Homo sapiens: one gene and its partners. The protein of the gene in region 2 interacts with the protein of the main gene of each other region in a biochemical or structural test. Each region holds a gene or a part of one and is shown on either strand. Other genes may lie near its edges.

Region 1 (2,752 bases), on a different chromosome or scaffold from region 2:
CTGTGTCTGTCTGTCTGCCTTGGGAAGGGTCCTTACCTACTCTGTCTCCAGTCTTCTCTGATCTGTTTTGGATGCTTATATTTGCCTTGAAATCATCTCTTTTGGATTGTAAAAAATATATTCTGGAGTCAAATAGCATAATCCCTTATGACTCTTTTAATCTATTTTCTCTTAATCTGTGGTGATTGATACTTGCTGGAATTTTTTTTCCTGGGTGTTTCTGACAGGTGAGCTAAATCCTACCATGCCCACCCCTCCCCACCTGGGGGCACAGGTGCATGAATTTGATATGTTTCTCTGATTTTGTCATTTTTGCTTTTATCTTCCTTCATTCTATTTTCTTACTTTCCTCATTCTAACGCTTTTTTTTCTAACAAGAGCTCATTACAGATTCATTGATTTTAATTATTTCTTGCTAACCCATTTCAGTATTAAAGACTATGAGTTTTCCTCTGGGCTCATCAATTCTGATATGAGTGTCCTGGTTTTATTGTTCTAGACATTTCACAAGTTTGTGAAAGTGGACCCTTTTGTTTTGTAGATAAGAAACTTGAGGTATTTTCTCCACCAGAAGCTGCCCATGGGTCTGTAGGAGCTCCGGTTCTGCCAGGCGGTGGCCTGGGCCTGCCCCGACCCCAGGCCCTCGTCCCTGAATCCCACACCCAGCAGTGGCTGCGCATCCAGACAGGACATGCTCCAAGGGTTTATTAATAACCTCTGCCAGAGACTCTGCCCCCAGGGAGCAGCCTCCCCATGGCCGTGGTGCAGGTGTGCAGCAGGAAGGGGATGGCGACACAGATGACCACGTCATCGTCTTCTGAGCTGTGGTTATTCTTTGAAAGGGCAGGAGGAAGTCCCACTGCTCTGGAGGTGTGGAAGGGTGGGAGTCTGGTCTTCCTGGAGGCGGAGGTGAGCTGTTGGGTTTACAGGTCACTTAAGTAGAGGGAGGAAGAGCAGGGTGTTTCGGGGGAGCCCTGGAAGGATGTGGTGGGCTTGAGGACACCCCCTTAAGAATGTGGCACTGAAATCCCAGCACTTTGGGAGGCTAAAGCGGGGGGATCATGAGGTCAAGAGATTGAGACCATCGTGGCCAACATGGTGAAACCCCGTTTCTATTAAAAATACAAAAATTAGCTGGGCATGGTGGCACACGCCTGTGGTTCCAGCAACTCGGGGGGTTGAGGCAGGAGAATCGCTTGAACCCAGGAGGTCGAGGTTGCAGTGAGCTGAGATTGTGCCACTGCACTCCAGCCTGGTGACAGAGCGAGACTCCATCTTAAAAAAAGAAAAAAAAAAAAGAACGTGGGACCGAGACCTGCAGGTCCCCAGCTTCTCATGCCCTTCCATGTAACCATCCTCCTTCCTCCTCCTATAGCCCCCACCATTTCCAACCAACACCCCTAACCCCAAAAGAAAGCATGAGGTCTGACTATAGGGCACAAGCCCGTGACTAATACAATGGCTGCAAGACACAGGCTGGGCTCGTGAATGGGGACGTCAGCAGCCTGGCTTTCTGGAATCACAAGACCAGACCCCAGTTCATTCCTGTAGGGTCAGCCCTGAACTGGACACAGTAGGGTCTGTCCCAGGGGCCCAGAGAGGCAGCCGCAGACAGTGGGCGAGGCTGATACATTACCCAGGAGGCAGGACCAGGCAGGAGCTCACCTAGAAACGGCACGGCTCTGTGGGAGGAGATGGGACAGTGGAGGTGTCAGCGAGAGAAGAGACAGCTGGGGACACAGCAGCCCCAGGGCTAGAGAAGGGATGAAAGGATGGTGGGAGAGGGCAGGACCCCACCTCAGGGTGGCTCTGCACCCCAGAAGGCCAGGGGAGAACAGGGGAGGGGCCAAAAAGGAGTGACCTGAGTCCTGCAGAGCCAGCAGGGGGCTCGGGCTAAGAAAGAGGCAGCTTCTCCTCCAGCTGAGGCTGGGCGTGTCCTAGGCAGAGCTCACCTTCCATCTGTTTCAAGTCCAGCAAGTACCATAGGTGCCTGGGCAGGGGCCTGAAAGCCCTGATGAATCCCTGCATGATCTCATCGTCCTCCACCAGGACTCTGGCTGTGGAAGAGGCTGGGTCAGTCCTGGGCCCCTGGGGCTTCCATGAGAGCTGGGGAGCTCCAGAGGCCTTGCCTGAGGAGGGAGGGCAGAGAAGGAGGCCCCAGTGCTCCGAGGTCTGGCAGAGTTTGGTCTGGAGTAGGTCCCTAGGGCGGTCTCCGGGGCTCTGTCCACTGCACCTCCAGGTTCCCTGACCCCAGCTCCCACTCCTTGGCCCGGCCCCCTCTGCTCCGCTCTGGGCAGCGCTGGGGTCTGCACAGCTTAGGATGGTGTCTACAGCGTCACAGGAGAGCACAGTGCCTGGCTCTCCCAGTGCCCGGCTCTCACCAAGCATGGCTGAGGCTGATCAAGAAGACACCTGTGTGACCCCAGAGGAAACACTGTGCTCAGAAACATGGGGAAGGGCTGTGCCTATGTGGCTATTTTGGTATTCCTGGCCTTCGTTTGGTTGACAGCATCATAGGTTTCAGGGCGTTTTGACTGGACGCCCAGTGAGTATTAATCTATCCACCAAGCCCAGCCCCTTGACTGGCGACCGTCCCACTGGCCCTATATCAGCTCCTTGCTTTGTCAGAGGACTCGATGAACCGCTGGAGAAAAACTCAGCCTGGCCGGGCGTGGTGGCTCACGCCTGTAATCCCAGCCCTTTGGGAGGCCAAGGCGGGTGGATCACTTGATCCAGGAGTTGGAGACCAGCC
Region 2 (7,052 bases):
CCTCCGCCTCCTGGGTTCAAGTGATTCTCCTGCCTCAGCCTCCCGAGTAGCTGGGATTACAGGCATGCACCACCACGTCCGACTAATTTTGTATTTTTAGTACAGACGGGGTTTCTCCATGTTGGTCAGGCTGGTCTTGAACTCCCGACCTAAGGTAATCTGCCCGCCTTGGCCTCCCAAAGTGCTGAGATTACAGGCGTGAGCCACCACGCCCGGCTGAGGATCTGCATTTTAAGAAAGCTCTACAAGTGATGCACAGGCTGTTTGTGACCTCTAATCTATGCCAGTTATTTTATTTATTTGTTTACTTTTATTTTCTTTCAGCTGACAAAATGATGTATATTATGAATAATAAATTTCAGTCTACATTATTTACAAAAACAACAATAATTTATAATGTTTACTTAAACACTGGCTTTCAACAAAACACTTAGAAACACCTAGCGTCTTGTCCCCGAGAGTTTGCATCCGAAATTTGGACTGCTTAATTTATTTTTTGGCATATATATACACCAAATTAAATGAAAAAAATATATATATATATACTTAACTTTTAGGTTCAGGCGTACACATGCAGGTTTGTTATATAGGTAAACTCGTGTCATGGGGGTTTGGTGTACAGATTACTTTATCACTTGGGTACTAAATTTTGCACTGAATTGTTGTTTTTTTCTGATCTTCTCCCTCCTCCCATCCTTAACCCTCAAGTAGGCTCTGGTGTCTGTTGTTCTCCTTTTTGTGTCCATATGTTCTCATCATTTAGCTCCCACTTACAAATGAGAACATGCAGTGTTTGGTTTTCCATTCCTGTGCTAGTTTGCCAAGGATAATGACCTCCATCTCCATCCATGTTCCTGCAAAGGTCATGATCTCATTCTTTTTGATGTGTGCCAGTTATTTGTTACATGTATTTTGTCCTAACTTTTTTCCTGAATAGTATCTCCAACCAAGTAATAATATGTTTGTGGAGAGAGAGTTTTTTATCAGATCTGCAGCTATTTAAATATTGATGCATATAAGTGTATCTTCCCCCCAAATTAATTATATCATATATAACCTGAGATTTATTATTGCCAGTAGGAATTCTAACTAAGGAGTCACTACTTCCTTCTATTCAAACTTTTCAATAATTCTTCATCTCTATCTTCAATAAAGCAAGAATAATATAGGATTTCATTACATAACAAGGAATTCAGGTCAGAGGCAATGGGTAATATTTACTTAGTTGTTATTGAGGGAAATTATTACCCTTTAAACAATGAGGTTGCACAATAGTAGATCCTGGATGGACAATGTAAACCCCATCATTGAGAAATTATATCAACTTAAGAGAATACATTGCATTTTTTGTGAATAGTGCAAATATCTACTGTTGCACTGCTTTACTTAAAGAGGAGTTCCCGAAAGAAGACTGGTGGTTATTCTTAGGATTAGGTGATAGAGTCAGAAGGTCTTACCTGACACTTAGGGAGATTTGGAAGCTGGTGTGGGCTTTGGGTTCATCACAAGTTTGAGGCAGAGTCTGCACTCCTAAAGCAAAGGGGAACTCTTCCTTTTCTGGGAGAATATTGTATTTCAAGGATGTCTATAGAACATCAAAGACAAAATCAGTTTTTTGCCCTTTCCCAGAATTCCTGTCCACGTCCCTAACCCTTTCTCTGATCTGTCCCATTGTTTTCTGAGTTAGGACTTCTCAGAGAGAACAGCTGCTGTCCTCATCTGTCCTGTCCTCACCTGCCCAAGAGTCTCACCTGGAGGTAGACACATCCTTCTCCTGTCACTTTCATGCTGTATTCCCCAGGCAGCTCTGGCAATGAGACCTGCTGCAGTAACAGGCGGTTGTTGTTGTCCACTTGGAATTTGCTGGAAAATGTCCCTGAAGACTGGATAGTCACCTGTGCAGCCTTCCCAGTCCTGGTAAATGTGGCTGCTCCATATTTGGACAGAGCATGGAGAGCCACCACTGTGTCCTGTTAGAGACAGATGAGTGAGAGAACCCATTGGGCATTATAAGGCTTTGAGGGCTGAGATATTTTTCAAAGACCCATGTGAGGGACTTTGATTTCCTACTTCCCTCACTACTTAAATATAGGAGCTGTAATTTCAAGATTGATTATAATCTTTAGATAGTTGAAGAACCATAACATTCACATATCTACCTTGGACTGTATGCCCTACATGTTTATTTTATTTATCAGAAAATTGATCCTTTTCTCTCTGTAAGTATATGTGGGACATGGAATGTGGAAAACATGTGAATGGCAATCAGTTATTGGCATCAGCTATTTGCTAACATGTCTTTCTTGACAACTATGCTCATATCTGCCACCACTCAAGCAAAGTTCAGTCTGGCTCTCTCCCATATTAAACTTTGCTCAGTTGCTGAGGTCAGTGTCCTGGAGAGAACCCAAGGTTCTTTGCAGCCATGAGCAGAGTCATGCTTCAGTTTCTCCAAAAGAAATAAAAGATGAGTATTATAATTATCTTCTGGATTTAATGACATTTTTATTTGGCTTTCCCTTTTTATTGGATGATTTCCTGTTCCCAGTGAATGTCTGCTGGTATGTATCCTCAACAACATTAAACCTGCTTGGCCTCCTTCAAATAATATGTTTCTAATAAATGAATGATAACCTTTAACAAAATTACTTAGTTTTTTTCATTCATATGATAAAAGATTAATACAATGGAAATAGGATGGAATGCCATTTTGTCACATTTTTTCCGTTTTAGGGTATATAAGCAAACATCCGAATTCTCTGAAGATAAAACTTTCTGCTGTGTACATATCAATGAATTGTTCAGATACATGGTTATATAGCTAGATTTAGGAGGTTGGATGAATAAAGACAGTTCTTTATGCTCCTGATGAATAAATGTTTGTGTATTAAGAGGTGAATAGGGGGCTGGACGCAGTGGCTCACACCTATAATCCTAGCACTTTGTGAGGCCAAGGCGGATGGATTGCCTGAGCTCAGGACTTCGAGATCAGCCTGGGCAACATGGCAAAACCTCGTCTCTACTAAAAATACAAAAATTAGCCAGGCATGATTGCACATGACTGTAATCCTAGATACTTGGGAGGCTGAGGCACTAGAATCGCTTGAACCTGGGAGATGGAGGTTGCAGTGAGCCGAGATTGCACCACTGCATTCCAGCCTAGGTGACAGAGCAAGACTCTGTCTTAAAAAAAAAAAAAAAAAAAAGGTGAATAGGGGAAGCACAAAATGTGTAGTTTTGAGAAAAGCCTATTAAAGGGGACCTAAGAATGGAGAGATTTGCGAGGAGAGGTTGTTGGATTTTGAGTAGAGTTCCTTTGAACAGTTTGAAAGAGACCCTAGAGCTTTCAGGAGAATGGCAGGAGACATCTCCTTCATTCTGCTGGTGCTCCACTGCTGCTTGAGGAAGGCAGTGTTGTTATGGGAAATAGGAGATGGATAATAACACAGCGATGGGGTGCCGGGATTCTGAGCATTTCCTTTTGGCCCTCTTTGACTTTGATTTGCTTTTATTTCCATTATCCTTGGATACTGAAAACTTTTCCTCATTTCAAGTTACTGTCATCTGTATTTTTTTCTTCTTGGATGTGTTTGTTTCTTTTTCATTCAAATCTTTTGCTACCTGAAGGTGAAATAAAAGGTTTTGGCAAATCACCAACCTGGGTGGAGGAGAAACCGCCCTGGGCATTCTGCTGCTTCGTGATCCACTTCACGATGTTGGTTGCAGAGGTCAGGTCCTCCGAGGTTGGGGCTGGCTGGGCCGTGAGATAAGCGAGGAGCACATAGGATGTCATCTCCACCTCAGCAGAGGGAGCCTGGGGTTCGTAAAAATGCCCCACTGGTGCCTTGGGTTTCTGAGGGCGCTCCCAATGGACAGAGTTGTCTTAAAGATGAGAAAAAGATATTTATAAGTGCCTACATATTTATATTTAATTCAAGGTGAAAGTACCCAAGCCAGTGCTGAAATGAGAATTGCATGCCCATTATAATCCCCTGTACTGTATGTAGATGCTTTTCCCTTCATGTAAATCTGAATTTGGTGTGTTTTAGCCCAGCTAAGGCAGATATTGATGCTGGAGTCAGAAGCCTATGCCTATCTATGTTTTCAAATCGTTGCTATAGTCGGGTTGGTGGGAGAAAGAAATGGCACAGCAGTTGTCTCATTGAGTCTGGCTATTTCCTATTTATGATGTTATATTAGACTATAGCTGGAGTTTGTTACATTTCCTATAAAGTGTGTCTTTATCAGTTTCTTGTGAGGATCACAGATCACATGAAATAGTAGAGTTTCTACTCATTAAATTGAAAAAAAAAATACAGTAATCCTTGAAATACCAAAGGCTGACATGGATGTGAAACAATGGGAACCAATATACACTGCTGTGGGAAGCCAACTGCTCTTTGGCAATATTCAGCAATGGGGAAGATGTGCTTAGCCCACTAATCAGTCATTATGCTTCTCAAAGCATAATTTGGAGAAACACAGATGCACAAGAAAACAGGCACATGAGTATTCATTGCAGCATTTTTTTTAATAGCAAAACATAAAAAAAATCCATGAGGAGAAACTCGATGTGTAAATTATGACTAATTTATAGACTGTAATATATTATGCAGCAGTGAAAATTAATGAGCTGACTCTGCACATACTTGTATAGGGGTCTTCATCAACATAGTGTTGAACTTAGAAAATAAAAAGCAGACAAACAAAAAACTAAGCTGCTGAAATATTCAAAAATGTTTCTCTTGTTTCTTGAATAAGAGAGAAATAAAAATCTTGTTTCTCTCAAGATGAAACACATGTGAAGATTCTAAATATTAGTTAGGGATACATATGCAGCAAAAATATAAGGAAATCCATGGAATTGTAACGACAAATTCAGGATAATGATTGCCTCTGGAGGTGGTAGTGATACACAAGGGATTTATTTTTCCCATGTCGGTAATTTTCTATTTCTTAATCTATGAGAGAGTTGTACAGTGTTTTCTAGTTATAGCTTATGCCCTTTTGTATATCTATTATAAAATATTTCTCAATACATTTTAAGAAGAATTAATGGCTGTCAAAGGAAAAAGGTAGACTGTTTTAATGGACATCTTGTGATTTGCATTTTATTTTCTATTTCTTCAACCGCTCATATAGACCATGGTATATGTAGAAGTACTGTGTGAATATGAGTAGATTGGTCAACATTATTGGTCTTATGAAATGGGCTTAAAATACCAGAATTCATTCAAGGAGTTACTTCCATGATTATTTTCTTATGTTTAAGGTTATATAATGTACCAGGTAAGGGTTGGGCATATATTGAGAACTGATATGTTAATTGTAATAACTAGTACTTTTATAGGATTTGCTATGTGACATGTACTCTACTAAGTGTTTTACGTGTACCAATTCATTTATTACAACAGCTCTGTGAGGTAAATACTATTATTATCCCCATTTTACTGATGAAGGAACTGAAACACAAGGAAGTTAATGACTTTCCCAAGCTCACATAGGTAGCACATTTTGGAGCTAGTCTCCAGAGAATGCTCTTCTTACCAGCATACTATAGAGATGGTCCCTGACTTACAATGGTCCCACTTAAGATTTTTTAGACTTTACAATGAGTTTGTCAGGATATAACCCCATCGTAATTGAGAAGCATCTGCACGGCCTCTTGTCTTCTGATTTCTGATTTGATTAAGAAATCCTAGATTTTATAAGATGCAATATGGACAAAATATATATGATATATAGAAAAGAAGAGAGGAGACAGGGATCACAGGAGGTAGGAGTGAGGGATTTTTGCCATGCAGTTCTTGATACAGAGGATGGGCCAGGAGAAGGATCTCAGGTGTGCTCTCACCTTTCTTCACAGCTTCCTCATTAAGTGACTTGAGTACTTCCTTCCTCTTGTCCTGGTTACCTGCCAGGGCAAAAGCATAGGCCAGCAGTGCTTTGGTATATACATGGCTGCCATGGTCCCCTTCTTGTGCTGTCTTCCAGGCTGACTCCAGGCAAAACAGGGCATTGCGGACAACAGGGTGCTGTGAAGGCAGAACAAGAAGGGAACTAAGCTATGTAAACAGGCATATTAGCATTCCCAGGCAAATACACGGATCACAGCACAGAAGTTTTTCAAACGCATTTTTCCAACGATTCCTCATTCTTATCAATAGATATAATATTATTTTTATCTGTTATTCTCACATTCAAAAGATACATCTTTAAGATTCTTTTTTGAGTGGTGGTGGTAAATAGCCTAGGGGAATTACTGGGAAAATTTAAACCTTTCTTAATGGGCTGACCAAATTCTCTGTAGATCTGGGAAGCACTGGCATTGCATAGAAAGAAAGCTGATGCTTTGCTTTTAATAGGATAGTATTTCAGACAGCAGGTCAGCAGTTTCATTGCATCCAGAACTCTCCTTCAGCAGAGGAATGGGGTGGTACCTACAGTGACTGTGAGAGGAATCTCCAGAAGGGCGATGGTGATATAGGCGGAGAGGGTCACTTCATCTTCTACTCCTCCCTGTGAATACGAGAGAGAGATCTGAATAATTCAACTTCTGAGAATGCTATTGATTAGTTCTTTCTATTCTGCTGTGTCATGGAATTCATCCTTACCCATATCCATCCCTATAGGGCAAAGTATCACAATCAACTTTTGTTCTATCCCCTCTTTTTTGGTGCCATCCAGGTTTTATTTTCCTCTGAGGCTTTCCCTTAGAATTTTTCACATTATCACTTCCTATCCTCATCCTTGCAGATATCATAATGGACAAATCAAAACTAGCTCCAGAATGATTCACCTTTATGGCATTGTTGAGCAGTGACCCAGAGCTCCTGAAACAGCCATTGTCCTTCTGCCTCTGGGAGAGCCATATGAGGGCTTGGGTAATGTGTGCTTCATCGATGAAGATGTAGGCTCGAGCTTGGGCAAAAGTCTTCAGAACAAAGGCTGTGAGCCTGACCAGGGAGGAAGCAATCATGATGTTTATGTTGTCAAAATGGTTTTATAACCACTTCACAGCAACAGGCTTCATATGATGTGAGTTAGCTAAC
Region 3 (7,040 bases), on a different chromosome or scaffold from region 2:
GGAAATAATAATAAGGCAGTCAGACTGCCTCACATCCACTTTATCGCTACTCATTTTGTCACCTCATTAGACACAGGGCTGGGAAAACACTTGCTCCCATTTAAAAGCGCGTTGTTGACATTCAGTAAATGAGCATTCGTCTTCCCAGTCACCCAGAGCAAACAAAAGTCAGGCTGAAGGGAGCAGCCCCTGCAGAGACGTTTCTCACAGGGCAACATTTCTGAATGTGAACCAAAGTCAGCACCGTGAGCTCCACCTGGAAGTACGGGGCTGTGCAGGCCAATGGTGGAGCCCGTGCCCACCTGGAAGAGCAATTTGCCTTTCTGCTCAGGGAAGATCATTGATGCCAGGTTTCTGTGAAAGGCTAGTTTCATCTGTTTTCCCCTGGGTCCCTCCTAGAAAGATGGGAGTTTTCTTCCCTTGGAATGTCATTTTGCCTGGTTAAGCCCAGAAACAGATTCCCTGTAAGAGCAAGGGAGTCTGCCTCACTTGTCCCAAGTGTGGAGAAACAGGCGCTTTTATGAGATGTTTCGCTCCACACCCACGTATGTTCCATGGAACACCGCAAACATCAGGGAGTGGAGGTGGCTGTTAATAGCCCAGGGACTGGACAGGAAAATCGGTGCAGCCCAAATTTGTGCTGCCTGGGGGCTATTTCTACCGCACCACACCCTGGGCATCTTGCAAAGGGCATTTGGGCAGCTGGGGAGTCGGGTTATTGGGCCCCTGTTGGTTGGCTGTGGTTAAGGTGCAGGGGTTAACTTACTTACATGTGTCAGAGTGTGCAAAGCCTCTGCCTTAGAGTGAAACCTGAGGGGATCCCCAGGAGACCCTGATTTGAAGGTGATATCTGGGTAGAGAGTACCGGCCCTCCGGCATTTTTGCACCATCATTTCAACTCATGTTTTCTTAAAGTGGAGAGGTTAGGGTCATGGTTGCAGAGTGAGTTGGAGGGGACTCGGACATCGTGTTAGGCAGTCCTCTCCACAGCCCCTCATTTAGAGCTGAGGACCACGAGGAGCTGATATGTTACTGGGAATAACTAAGGTCTGAGTTACCTTCTCAACAACAACCAAAAGTGACTGTATAATTTTTGCTCTGGCTGTCCAGACATCTTTAGAAAAAGTCAAGTCATGACCATATCCTGTTGATTCATGAAGCCAAATTAAAATTAAGCTTCTTCAGGAAGCCCTGCCTTCTATATTCTCTCCAATTATACCATTCATTCCACAACTAGGAAGGAGAAGGAGCTGCCACGTATTGGCTTAATGTCTGGAGTTACCTGTGTTTCTGTTTGGCAGCGGACATCCAGGGTGTTTGGGAAGCAAGCACCTGCTGTAAGAAACAGACTGATCCATGCTCCTAACCCCCCTCCAGCCAAGCATCCCCATTCCTCAGGCACCTCACCTATTTGCGAAACTCTTCAACATGCCTCTCCAAGTTTCATCAAAATGCTCAGACGACTCTAAACATCCCCCGAGAGGAATTTCTGAGGTCTTTCAGATTCCATTAAAACATCAACATTATTCCCCCATCCCACTCCTAGTATATATATATTTCTTAAACAAGGAGATTGAAAAAAATGGGTTTGAATATCTGTGCTGGTGGTTATATCTCTGAGAGGTCTTAGATGGATCACCAGAGTGTTGAGGGGACTTTTGATTAATTGTGAAGCACTTTCAATCTGTTCTTTAGTGGGAAAAAGAAAGAAAGAAAGAAAAGAGGAAAAACCCATGCCCCAAGTGGCTTGCTCAATTTGCACAAACCTCATAAGAACCTGCTTCTCACTCATCCATATTGGAACGGTCACTGCCACCCCAGAGTGCGTGGCAGGAAAACCCGAACCCTGGGGCCTCAGTGGCTTCACACAGAAGCAAGTAATGGGACAAAGAGTCAAAGCTGTGTGCTCCCTACGCTCCTAAAAACCCAACACTGACGCTGCCCACAGTTCTCTGTTTCATTAAACACAAGTCCCAATGTCACCTTCTTAGACATTTTTCCTATGTAACTGAAGGCAAAACACATTAAATATTTGCTCTCGTCTTCCTATGATGAGAGTTAGCTAGCAGGCTCATAAATAATCCATTGACCAGGTTCACTTTTCTGGACAAAACTGATGGTAAAAATACATACACAAAGTCTTTGTAATGTCTGATTCAGAAATTCTACCCCTCTCAAATTCTTCAGAGTCCCAAATGGAAAAGGAACAATTCAATATGCAAAAGCCCCAGTTCAGAAGAAAATCTGCTCCTTAGCCCAAGACCCAAATCCACTCTTGAGCTCCAGAGAGCTTTTTTTCAAGAACAAGTTTGAATGTACACAATTTTCAAGCAAATGATGGTTATATCCTTCAACCACGTAGCACAGTCGTTGGAGTTGGAGTTTCACATACATTCTGAATGGCCTGTGAGGTGTCTGAGAGCGCCTCAGCTCTGACAGTGAAACCACCCAAGCGCACGGAGACTCGGCCCACTTAGGCGCCACTCAGAGATTTCTCTAGCTGTCTGGGCATTTGTGTCAACCAGAACTCTCCCTTTGCATAAAGCCACCTGCACGCGATGACAGCAAAGTAAAGATCAAACATAAACCATGGGTTGAAACGAAAGCAAGCAACTCTTCCCAAAGCGCAGGACAGCACTTTGCTCAAGACCCTCTTTAAGGGGTCTTTCACGGGTCCTCAAGAGGTTGCAAAGCCCCTGCAACAATAGACAAAGGAGCCCCCTACGCCCGCCCACTTCGAGCACTCCACGTTCCTCGTCTCCCACTCTGGCCGGTCAGCTTCAGCTCTGGCTCTTGCTGAGCGTGGAGGGCGCAGGGGCAGGATCCGGCGCCCACCGCTGGGGCGCATGCACCTCCTCGCCTCCTCGCAGGGCGGTGGGGCGCAGCGGTTCTATCCCCCTCCCCGAGGCGGGGAAGAAGGTCTGGAAAGAAACGTGGGTTCGAGGCGGAGAGGAAAAGCGGACCCACCTGCCAGGCTGCGCGGGGAGGCTGGTCCCGGGCTGGGCAGGCGGGCTGGCCTCGCGCCCTCGAGGCACCCGGCGGCGCTGGCTGTGCGGAGGGGCGCCGGCGCGGCCGTATTTGTACCCGCGGGCCCTCACATGGTCTGATCTCTAGATAGCCGCCGCCAAAGAGCTCTTGAAGAATTTTTGCGTCACTTTGAGGCGAATAAACTTAATGCTTCCCCGCGGCCGCGGCTCCGCGCTCCCGCTGGATGGGGTTGCGCTCGCCAGGGAGGGGCCGCGCTACGGGGCGGGGTGCGCGCCCGACCCCAGAGCCAGGAGGGGAGGGACCCCCGACACACACACACGCTCGCAGGGAGGAGCGGAGCGCGGAGCAGCCGGCAGGGCAGGGCCGAGCGAGGAATCCTGACTTTCCTGCTCTTTAACTTTGCGGGAGGGGGGAGGCTGCACAAAGGAGCAGGTGTGCGCCTCCCCTGCCGCCCCGCGCCCACAGGACGGCACACAGGGGTCTGCTCGTGCCGCTTTCTCTTGACCTCGGACACCTCCCCATCGTCCCCATCCCGAAAGCTGCTCTCTCTTTCTTCCTGGGACCTAGCAGTACTCGATACCCATGCGTTTATCTGACTGACCGGCTGGGATGTGAGCTCAGCTTAGAGGCCCTTGTCTAATTCCTCTCCGTCCCCAGAGTCTCACAATAAAGACTTCCACAATGAAGGAATGAAGAACTGGTTCTCATTTTGTTAACCAGCTACAGTTCAAAGCTGCGTCAAAAAGGAGCACAGTGCTTTGGGAGGCTGAGGCGGGAGGATTGCTTGAGCCCAGGAATTCAAGACCAGCCTGGGCAACACAGCAAGACCCCATCTCTAGAAAAAAAATTTTTTTAATTAGCCGGGCGTGGTTGCTCGCGCTTGTGTTCCCAGCTACTCAGGAGGCTGAGGTGGAGGATCAGCTGAGCCCGGGAGGTCGAGGCTGCAGTGAGCCGTGATCGAACCACTGCACTCCAACCTGGTGACAATTTGAATTATCTGAAAGGGCCCAGCAGGAGCCTATTGTTTTGAACCATGTGCATGTAGTTTTGATAATTTTTTCAAAAAGTTTAAAAATTGATTTAATGTTAATATCCTTTTTGCTAAAATTATTTAAAACTTTAAAAAGGGCACATGCAGTACTTGCTTTGGGTTGTCCCTGAGGCGGAAAGGAGAGGGCTCTACCTCTCCCCAAGAGGAGGCCAGGAACGATAGGAAGTAGAAGACCGAAAGGAAATAGCAGTGACAAGTTTGCAGCTCCAGAGAAGCCACCGCCCCTTGTACTTGGAGGAACTGACCCCTGAAAACTGTGCGGCCGGTTGGGCTGAGCGTCTAGAGGGACTGAGCTGGACAACCACGGGCAAGCGAGGGCAGCTCCCAGCGGGTGGAGTCCGCGCGGGATTCTGGTGCCACCTAGACGCCAGGGCGGGGACCGCAAGGTGGGCGGGAGGCTTGGAGGCCGGGATGCGGGGGAATACTGGTAGGGTGCAAGGAGAATGCTGGAGGGGTGCAGGGGGGATGCCGGGGGTGCATGGGGGGATGCTGGGGGGTGCAGGGGGGATACTGCGAGGGGTGCAGGGGGGATAATGGGGGTTGCAGGGGAGATCCTGGGAGAGGTGCAGGGGGATGCTGGAAGGGCTGCAGGGGGGATGCTGGGGGTGCAGGGGAGATGCTGGGGGGGCTGCAGGGGGGATGCTGGGGGTGCAGGGGGGATGCCGCGAGGGGTGAAGGGGGGGATAATGGGGGATGCAGGAGCGATCCTAGGAGGGGTACAGGGAGTTGCTGGGAGGTTGCAGGGGGGATGCTGGGAGGGCTGCAGTAGGGACATTAGGGGTTAGGTGCTGGCATTCAGAGCGGCAACGCCAGGCGGGAGAATCCCCAACAAGCTTGGGAATTTCACCCCCAGGGGCAGCGCCTGCACGGGAGTGGGGCCTCCTCCTTTCAGATGAACACAGTTGTCTGCTGCCTCCCACGTTCCACTTCTTAAATGAGCATGTTTGTGCTGTATAGGCAAGGGCAACAGAAAACGCAAAGTGTCCTTTCCAGGAGGGCCAAAGGAGGGGGGCAGGGACGCTGGGAAGAGGCGCCAAAGCGGAGGACGGCTGCAGGGGTGACTTCAGCGCTTGGCTACCAAGACCAGGTCTGTCCAGTGTGACTTCTTAGCACTTCTTAATTGTGCAGTCTCGCCACTTCTGATCTTCCTTCTAGACTCTTTCTAGCCGAAGATGCATTCCTGCCCAGCGCGCAGCCCCTCCCTATGGCACTGCCCTGTTCTGTGCAGGTGCTGCCTAGAGAGTGGGCACCCTGTGGACCTGGGTCAAATCCCGGCCCCCACCCTGTACTGTGGTGTGGGCTTGACCGAGCTCCTTAACCTCAAGCTGTCTGGCCTTTGTGTCTCTGTTTGTGAAGTAGGGAGGATGATCTCAGTGGGCACTGCCCAGCTGTGGGTGGGGAAGGGGCCAACTCCTTGCAGGCCCTGTGCGCTGGGCCCTTCCTCCAAGGGGGCCTTCGACCCCTCCTCTCTCTGGCCGGGTGGTCCCATCTCCTCCCCTCTTGCTCCCCAGCTGCGGGCAACCACCATTAGCAAATGACATTAGAATTACACAGACGGCCCCGCCCTGGTTCCCCCTGCCTCCATGGCAGAGTCCGCACACAACTGGCCCAGACCCTCCCCCTCTCTCTAAACAGGTGTTTCTCTTCCTCCTGCCCTGGGTACCATCCCACAGAGAGGCCAGGCCCACCTGCAGGTCCTCACCTCCACAGAGCCAGCCTCTCTTGAGCAGCTCCGCTCTGCCTTCTGATACTCATCGCCACAAGCACCTTGTCCTTCCTCGGCCTCCCACTCCCTCCCTCTGAGCCCGCGCCCTGCTCCCCTGCCTGGCGGTCAGTCGACTGCCCCGCCCCGCCTCCAATTCAGGTGGACAGGCTTCAGCGTCCACTACCGGGGAAGAGGCAGCCCCGCACCCGTGCCTCCCCCCGCCTCTGGGCCGCTCCTTCCCAGCCTGAGCCTGACCGCATGAGGAAGGCACAACCTCTCTGCTCCAGAGACCTGGAGAGGCCGGGAGGCCCTGTCCTGGGCATGGAAGGCAGGAGGGAGCCCTGAGTGCGGCAGGAGGGAAGCAGCGCTTCAGGGGAAGGATCTAATGGCTGTGACCTGCGTGGGCTGCAGGTAAGAGTAGGGGGGAAGGGGGTTGTCGTGGTGGTTGGGACAGACGGGTTCCTTAGAATGTGAATGCAGGCGTCAGCTGGTGGCCGCAGGGAAGAGATGCAAGCCAGAAACCCAGCAGGCACCTGCGAAGCTTGGTGCTGGTGGTGTATAGGGACAGCCAGGGAGATGTCAAGGGCGACAGGTCCTGGGCAGCTGGGAAGAGGCTGCCTGGCAATCACCGCACAGCAATAGTTTTTCTTTGTTCACCTGCTTGAGCCCAGAAATAGTGGGGCTTAGAAGCTGCTCTGGGGCTCAGAATAAATACAAGCTTTCACTTTAAGAGGAAAGGGGCACATAAATATTTACACCTGCCCCAAACACCACCAAGAAAACCCACTTCCTGGAAGTCTCAAAGGCCAGCAGTGAGTCCCCTGTGGAGCCAGCCAGGACCGAACCATGCGAATCCCAGGCTCTCCCTCCGGAAGCCCTTGGTGCCATCTGTCTGTCCTGTCTCTGCCCTGTTTATACAATAACGAAAGAAGAAGGCCCACCCCTCCTTGTGGGCTTTTTCTCAGGCCCAGGAAAATGCTGACAATATTCAGTCCTTAGAGTGTCATCTTGCTCCATTCCCACCAGCACCTCCCCGACACCCCTGGTTTTTCCTGGGACCCCCAGTTTTTCCTGGCATGGTTCTGGTGACTCTACATTCATGTTCAGTGGCACCTCCAAGGCAGGACTTGCTGCCACTGTGAACCCTGGGCTCATCTCTACGGAGGTCTCCATGGGAGCCCCTAGCAGGCCCACCCCATCCAGATGAAGCAAGCTAAAGGGAACTCCAGACAAGGTCCTTTTGGGAGTGCGGGGGGTTTGGGGGAGGAACAGATCAGGTTCAGCCCTAAGAAAGGC
Region 4 (7,000 bases), on a different chromosome or scaffold from region 2:
GAATGAATCCACGGCACAGAGCCCATGTTCCTTCTCCCCTGGCCCAGGCCTTCCGCCCTCCCCTGCCCTGGCTCCAGGCCCTGCAGCTGTGAGAAGTCTTTCTGGGTCTTACTGCCTGGAGCCAGGCCAAGGAGCAGAGGTCAGGGATCTGGAAACCTTCCCAGCACTAGGATGAAGGAGTTGATTTGTTTTCCTGGGCGCCGCCTGCCTGCCTGCCCTGCACAATAAAGAAGTGTGTATTTGCAAGGAGCTGGGCCCTGGCTAGGGGCGGGGAGTCCTAGAAAGCGGAGACAGTCCTGGGTGGCTCACCGCCGCCCTGCAGGTCCACGACGGCATCCAGGTTATCGGGGATGGCATTCCAGGCATCTGCGATGAGCTTGGGGAAGCCAGGATCCATTTTCTTCTTCACCTCATTGTATCTGTAAAGAAACAGACACAGTGAACCAGCAGGGCCTCTCTAAAGGACACTTCCCCCCTGGCCTGGATGGGAGCACCCAGCTGATGGCTCCTGGATAGGCCTCGGAAACTGGACCTAGCCCTTCAGGGAAGCAGCCAGCTGCAGTGGAAGGAAGGGCATGGAATCAGACCTGAGTCTGAGCCTCAGATCTACCACTTTTAATTATATGACTTTGGATGACCCCATAAAAACAATCTCATGATTACTGCTAACATTTATAAAGCACTTACTACATGCCAAACAGTGTGTTAACCACTTTCCATACAGCTACAGTTTTACCAGCTGTAAAATGGGGTTGTGTCTAATTTAGTGTATTTAATTTAATGCATGCATTAAATAAAACAGCACATGCAGAGCCTCTATCCCCATGTCTCATAAATATTTAGTAGGTACTTAAGAAATGTTAGCTCCCTTACAAACAAATCCCTGCTGTAATCCGAGGAGTGCTAAACTAGAAGCCCAGGGATGGGAATCTGCCCCATCATTCTTTCACTTCATGGCTTGGAAAAATTGCTGCTTCTTCATCTGCCACAGGGAGATGACAGTCCCTGCCCTGGGAGATGACCATGGCTGGGGCAGTGAGGTTACAATGCAAGGTGGAAGGTACGTGTAAGTCCAAGGCCTGTTAGTCACAGGGTGGGCCACATGCCACCTCAGTTCCGGCGGCAGCAATCCTGGGCCCCGCCTTTAATTCAGGTAAATACTTTGGGCATCGGTTAGTATGTTCTTCTCCCTGGCTAGCAATCCTTCTGTCTTTTAAGATTTTTGGAGAACTTTTTAAATGCTGCTGTCATGTTGATTCCTTTGCCTCTCCACTTCATTATTCCATAAATATTTACTGAGCTCCCACTATGGGAGCTATGGATATCCTAGTAAACAAGTCTTGCCCAAGTGGAGCTGTTTCTAGATGAATCTGTGTTCGCATCCCATCCTGGTAGCAGCCACCTTTTGCTCCACAGTGCCTCCTAGGGGGCTCCCTTCCTTTCTGCAGCCAGCCTTGACCACCTCCACCCTGGACCCCAACAGCAGCTTTCCCTATATGCTCCCTTCTAGAGGAGACTTCTCCCTCAAAGGGACTTCTCCCTCAGCCATCACCCCGAAGAACTAACGCCTTCCTTAATCCCAGGTGCAGCATAAAACTCATTCTTACAAAACCTGGCATGCTTCCTCATGCCCTGGGTCACCAAAACCAAGTTCCCTAGCTCAAAATCCCAACACTCCCATCCAAGGCACCTCCACTGAGCCCTCAAACTACATTCCCTAGCGTTAGGATAGTTTGGAGATGTGTGTCCCACACTTGAACTGGCCCTCATTTCTTTCTCATTCTACCCACAGAAGGTGGGGATGGCAGAAGTCAAGCCCATTTTACAGATGAGGAAACTGAGTCTCAGATAAGAGAATTAGTTTGCTTCCAAGTTCTTTTCATCCAGAAAGAATACAAGCACTGTGGTGTCAGAAGATGTGGTACTTCTCTGCAGCTGTAGAAGTTGCCATGTATAGCAGGTGTTAAGAACACAGATATTTGTGTCCCAGCTTTTCCTTGAGCCACTTTAGCCTCAGTTTCCACACTTGGGAAAAGGAGCTAACAGTATCTACCTCAACTGAGAAATATAGGTGACCTGCATAGCCTCAGGCTGGGCTATGGTAGAGGCCCCATACTGAGAGCCATCATTATCTGATTCAAATGTGTTTACATAATTTTCCCTCATTCTACTATAAACTACATGAGGGCAGGGTGTGATGATTTTTTGACCCCCGTCTCTCCAGCAGCTAGCTAAGTGCCTGGCACACAGCAGATGTGGAACATATATTTGTGGCTTAGTGAAAGCTTCTACAAGCAGGGCCTGAGCTCTTCTTGGCATGCTGAAGACAGCTGCTCAGCCTCTGTCACTCTGGGGCTCTCTCTCCTTCTCCAGCAAAGATGCCTCTGGGGCCTCTGCAGACTCCACGGCAGGGCCAGTGTCACAAGCTCATTCACCACTTCTCTTGGAATAGAGATCTGTCTCCTTTGGAAGCCAGCCCAGAGCTTCTGATAGGCCCTTCAGCTCTGTCCCTTTTCAGGAAGTCTCAGGGTGGTTCCTCTGTAGAGCACGCTGTCTGTCCTGGCTCTGGCTTTGGGAGGTGGGCTTGTGTGGAAAAGGACTGGGAGGCAAATAACTCTGCCTGGAAATCCAGCAAGGCACTGCCACAACCTCCATGCCTGTGTGTGTGTGTGTGTGTGTGTGTGTGTGTGTGTGTGTGTGTGTATGCGCACATGCGCACACAATCATGTTCCTATATGCTAGGAACAGGTCTGTTTTTGCATGTTTACATAGATACAGTGCATGGAAAAGTGATTTAAAAAGTTCTTCCAACACCATAATTTGAAAACTTCAGGGCTTTAGGATTCTAAGATTCACGTTTCTGTGAGTCTGTGCGGCTCACCAGCCACAATTCTAAGACTTGGAGATTCAGGGCTCCTACAATGCTGAGATGCCATTCGCAGTACGCGTGTGTGTGTGTGCGTGTGCGTGCACACTGTCTGGGGCTAGTGTCTGGAGCTGGTGGGTGGAAAGCCTGCTCTGTGGTTTCCTGCCTGACTGTTTTCTTTCTTGAGGCTTGAGATATCAATCAGCTTAGGTTGCTAAGTGTCTTAGCAATATGTCTGGAATTCCACCCTGACATGGGCAGGCCTGGGATATAAAGAGTTTCTGAATGCAGGGCAGCTGGGGGGCAGAGTAGTGGGGAGGAGGGAAGGGGGAGAAGACAGAGGCCTTAGGAAGTAAGCGGGATTGTTTTGGGGATGGCAGACAAAGGCCTCAGGAAGTGCCCTCTAAAATTCTTGGGTAGGGCCCAGATGCAGTGGCAGCCATGGAAGGAATGTGGGGATACCAGGAGGGAGGGGATGGAAAGACACACCACAAGTCTTTGTGCCCCGACCACTCTTTCCTCACTAATCAAATGGACTGGCAGGTATAGTGGAGGGGGTACTCAGTTAGAATACAAGAGAAGTAGCTATAATCCTGGCTTTGTGCAAATACACATATCTCTATAGCTTGAACAAGTTATTTAATTTCTTTGGACCTCCGTTTCCTTTTCTAGAAAGTGTGAAGAATTACAGTCAAACTCCTGAGGTTTGGGCTACCTCTCACCAGCCACTCCTGGATATTAGGTTCCCTGGTCATGACTATAGCCCCTCAGAACTGGACCCTTTCCTGTAGATAACCTGGAGCACAGAACCATCTGCTTCCAAATTGTTCCCCTGCCAACCTGCACCCACAGCCACGGGCCTGCTGTGAGCATGACACAGGGCACCTGCTCCTTCCATGGGGTCTGATTTGGATGCTGGCTTCTATGGATGACTGGTGCACCCATCTCTAAGTCTTCTTCATATTTTGTCCACTGCCTTCATGTTCCCCCATCTCTTGGAACCCCCATTCCACCATCTCGGGTATAGAATAGTAGTGAAGAGTGAAGACTAACATGTTTTCCCAGGAGACAGAATGCCAGGGTTCAAATCCCAACCTGTCCCTACCTGGCTATGTGACTCCAAGCTGGTTACTTAACCTTTCTTTTTTCTTTTTTTTTTTTTTGAGTTGGAGTCTCACTCTGTTGCCCAGGCTGGAGTGCAGTGGCATGATCTCAGCTCACTGCAACTTCTGTCTTCCAGGTTTAAGTGATTCCCCTGCCTCAGTCTCCCTAGTAGCTGGGATTGCAGGCATGCACCACCATGTCCAGCTAATTTTTTTGCATTTTTAGTAGAGATGGGGTTTCACCATGTGGCCAGGCTGATCTGGAACTCCTGAGCTCAAGTGATCCACCCATCTTGGCCTCCCAAAGTGCTGGGATTACAGGCGTGAGCCACTGTGCCCAGCCACGGTTACCTAACCTTTCTGAACCCAGGTTTCCTCATCTGTAAAATGGGAGGAATAATAATTCCTATCCCATAGAACCCTTGGGACAGTCTCTGACACATAGTGTCAATAGGAGCAGTTATTATCTTTATTTTTATTACCCCCTTCTTCAGTGAGTCATTTCAAAATGTGAGGGTCCAGACCAGACATGGGCCAATCAAAAGAATTCTGCAAAGAGAAAGGATATTCCACCAGAATTATATCAGCAATGTGTACAAGAATGGTTCACCTTTGGCAACATCTCAGAGGTGCCAGAGACCAAAGAGGTTAGATACCAGAGAGAGGGCATCCAGAGCCCACCAACCTCTGAACTCAGCCCAGGAGGCTTGAAGCCTCAGGGCGGCTTCTCTGTCTCTCGCAGCCAACTGTGCTGCTGTCCTACCCACCGCCCTCCCTTACCTCCAGAATTTGTCTCCAGCAAAGATGTATGTCTTCTTGTTTTTGCTCCAGTTAAAGGCGGCATCCACTCGCTGGACATCAGGGGGCAGTCCCAGGCTGGTCAGTGGCTTGGGGTACCCTCGCTCCAGGGTGCTGGCTGAGTAGATCCAGTATTCATTCCCTGGGGTGGAAGCAAAGGGTGTGTTGGCTGGTGCTGACATGCCCTAGGCCAGCCTGTTCCTCCCATCATCTGTCTGTCCACGGGCCCCACTGCAGCCATTCCCAACAGAGTGCAACTTCCTGCTCACTCCTGGTTGCAGTGCCCAGAATCAGGGCTCACACAGAGGGCTTTAGAAGTCAATTACAGAAGGTGCCTGGTCAAGGACATGAGTTGGGGGATAAATCCAGCTCACACTCTGCTCACCAAGTCGTGCACTCTAAGGGCCTTGCTGTCATAAAGAGGCACCTTTTGCTAATTTGCAAAAAGGTGCCCTAGGAGCCAGCAGTTGTCCTCTCCGGGACCCATGATTACGGTGGATTGGGGGAGGTGGGAGCCAGGTGGTGGAGACAATAGTCTTGGCTGAGCCTTTATCTTCTCTAGGATCCCACCTCAGACCAGGACAGGGACCTCCTAAATCCTTCTTTACCCCTCATAAGAGCCCAGCTGTCTGTCTCCCTGAGTGGTTTGTGAGCATCGCGAAGGCAGAGCTTGTATCCCCAGGGTATGGCAAAGCCCAGCGCATGGAAATGCTCCAATAAATGTTAAATGAGTAAACCTTAGCCATACAGACCTCACCTTGATGATTTCTACCACTTCTAGGGGCTCCCTGTACTATTATTTACTTAACATTCTGCTTTCAGTGAATTCATTTTGAAATCTTTAAAAATAAATTTATTAAAAAATGTTTTTTGACTGTCAAAATATCAGTTACTGAATAATCCGTTTCTGTCCTGATTTGAAACTCCACACTATTATAACTAACTGCCTCTGTTAAAACCAATTTATGTCTAAAAGTAAAAATGAAAACAAATATTCTTTAAAACATTCGAACTAAAACTGTTACCTGCCAAAGACTGTATCACTACAAAGGCGTTAGGGACACACCAGCACTAAACTGAGACTTTTTTTCTTCTAGAAAAGAAATGAGACGGATTGAAAAGAATTAAGAAAATGAAATGTGTACACTGAGGGTTAATGCTATCTGATGTTGGGTGTCGGAACCAATCTCCCAGAGGAGCTGCGCACTTCAGGAAATAATGTTGAAAGAATGAATCCATAAAGGAAAGGGAGCACCCACGGGTGCATAGGAACTGTGGTTTGAGAGGGGGAGTGAGCCTGGGACACCCAGGAGCCCTGGTGCAGAGCCCTGTGGAGCTGAGGGCCAAGGAAGGGTGCTTCCCACACACCTGCAAAGAACACAGCCTTCTCCTCCTGTGGGGCCTCGTATACCGCATCAATCTTTTCCGGGAGCTCAGGCCAGAATGTGGCCACCAGCAGGGGCCCCATGGGCTTGTCACGTGGCGTCACAGTCCGCCAAATGAACCTGGCAGGAGGCAAGGGGGCACAGGAAACCACATCTTCAGTCACCCTGCAGCTCGAACCACACACACCCCCAAACCCACCCAGAAACATCCCAGAGATGATTCCATGATGGGAGTGGGAGGCAGGATCAAAGGAAGGTTGGAGAAGGACTGGAGAACGGGCAGAGTTCCTGTCTGCAATCTGCTGGAGCTGAGAAACATCCTCCTACCCTGTTCTCTCCCTCTACCTCCTCCAGGAAGCCTTCCCTGACTACCTCCATCCATATTGTGTTTTCCCTCTCTAAGCCTCTCAAAATCATCAACTCTGAGTGCCTGGAACAGTAGTGTCTGTTTGTCTTAACTCTCCTATTTGATTAGAGGCCAATTGGGGCAGGAGCTGATGACACTCAAGTATTTCCTGAATTAAAATGAAATGAATTTGTGTACTTTGTCAAGAGTAAGAGTTATCATTTATTGAGGGTCCTACTAAATGCCATGTGCTTTATTTATGTGCCTTGTAATTTAATCCCCACAATCTTTTAAGACAGCATGCACTCTGGATGGTCTACCTAGCATTAATTATCTATTTCCCCACCATCCTTCTTCACAAAACTCCACATTTATGATCCAGCCTTCACCTCCTCTGACCCTGTGTCCCCTACCCCCATTCTAGGGGTAGATACTGATTGGTATAAGCCACTGGTTCTCAAAGTGCAGTCTCCTGACCAGCAGCATCTGCGTCACCTGAGAA

What was found.
Region 1: the proteins of A2M (region 2) and PAEP form a complex in vitro, tested with the Homo sapiens proteins (one study listed by BioGRID).
Region 3: the proteins of A2M (region 2) and SLC6A4 form a complex in vitro, tested with the Homo sapiens proteins (one study listed by BioGRID).
Region 4: the proteins of A2M (region 2) and MMP2 form a complex in vitro, tested with the Homo sapiens proteins (one study listed by BioGRID).

Annotation. Positions count from the first base shown.
Region 1 is NC_000009.12:135,564,715-135,567,466, reverse strand, and holds the end of PAEP (glycodelin isoform 1 precursor), read right to left. Parts: intron 2,130-2,752; coding exon of another isoform or gene 2,058-2,129; coding exon 1,953-2,057; intron 1,683-1,952; coding exon 1,666-1,682; exon of another isoform or gene 1,637-1,665; intron 934-1,636; exon of another isoform or gene 915-933; 3' UTR 512-914; downstream 1-511. UniProt on the Homo sapiens protein: Glycoprotein that regulates critical steps during fertilization and also has immunomonomodulatory effects. Four glycoforms, namely glycodelin-S, -A, -F and -C have been identified in reproductive tissues that differ in glycosylation and biological activity.
Region 2 is NC_000012.12:9,070,902-9,077,953, forward strand, and holds part of A2M (alpha-2-macroglobulin isoform a precursor), read right to left. Parts: intron 6,957-7,052; coding exon 6,800-6,956; intron 6,520-6,799; coding exon 6,445-6,519; intron 6,036-6,444; coding exon 5,855-6,035; intron 3,883-5,854; coding exon 3,659-3,882; intron 1,971-3,658; coding exon 1,752-1,970; intron 1,586-1,751; coding exon 1,458-1,585; intron 1-1,457. UniProt on the Homo sapiens protein: Is able to inhibit all four classes of proteinases by a unique 'trapping' mechanism. This protein has a peptide stretch, called the 'bait region' which contains specific cleavage sites for different proteinases.
Region 3 is NC_000017.11:30,232,646-30,239,685, forward strand, and holds the start of SLC6A4 (sodium-dependent serotonin transporter), read right to left. Parts: upstream 3,053-7,040; 5' UTR 2,968-3,052; intron 1-2,967.
Region 4 is NC_000016.10:55,496,198-55,503,197, reverse strand, and holds part of MMP2 (72 kDa type IV collagenase isoform 1 preproprotein), read right to left. Parts: intron 6,273-7,000; coding exon 6,136-6,272; intron 4,910-6,135; coding exon 4,750-4,909; intron 420-4,749; coding exon 310-419; intron 1-309.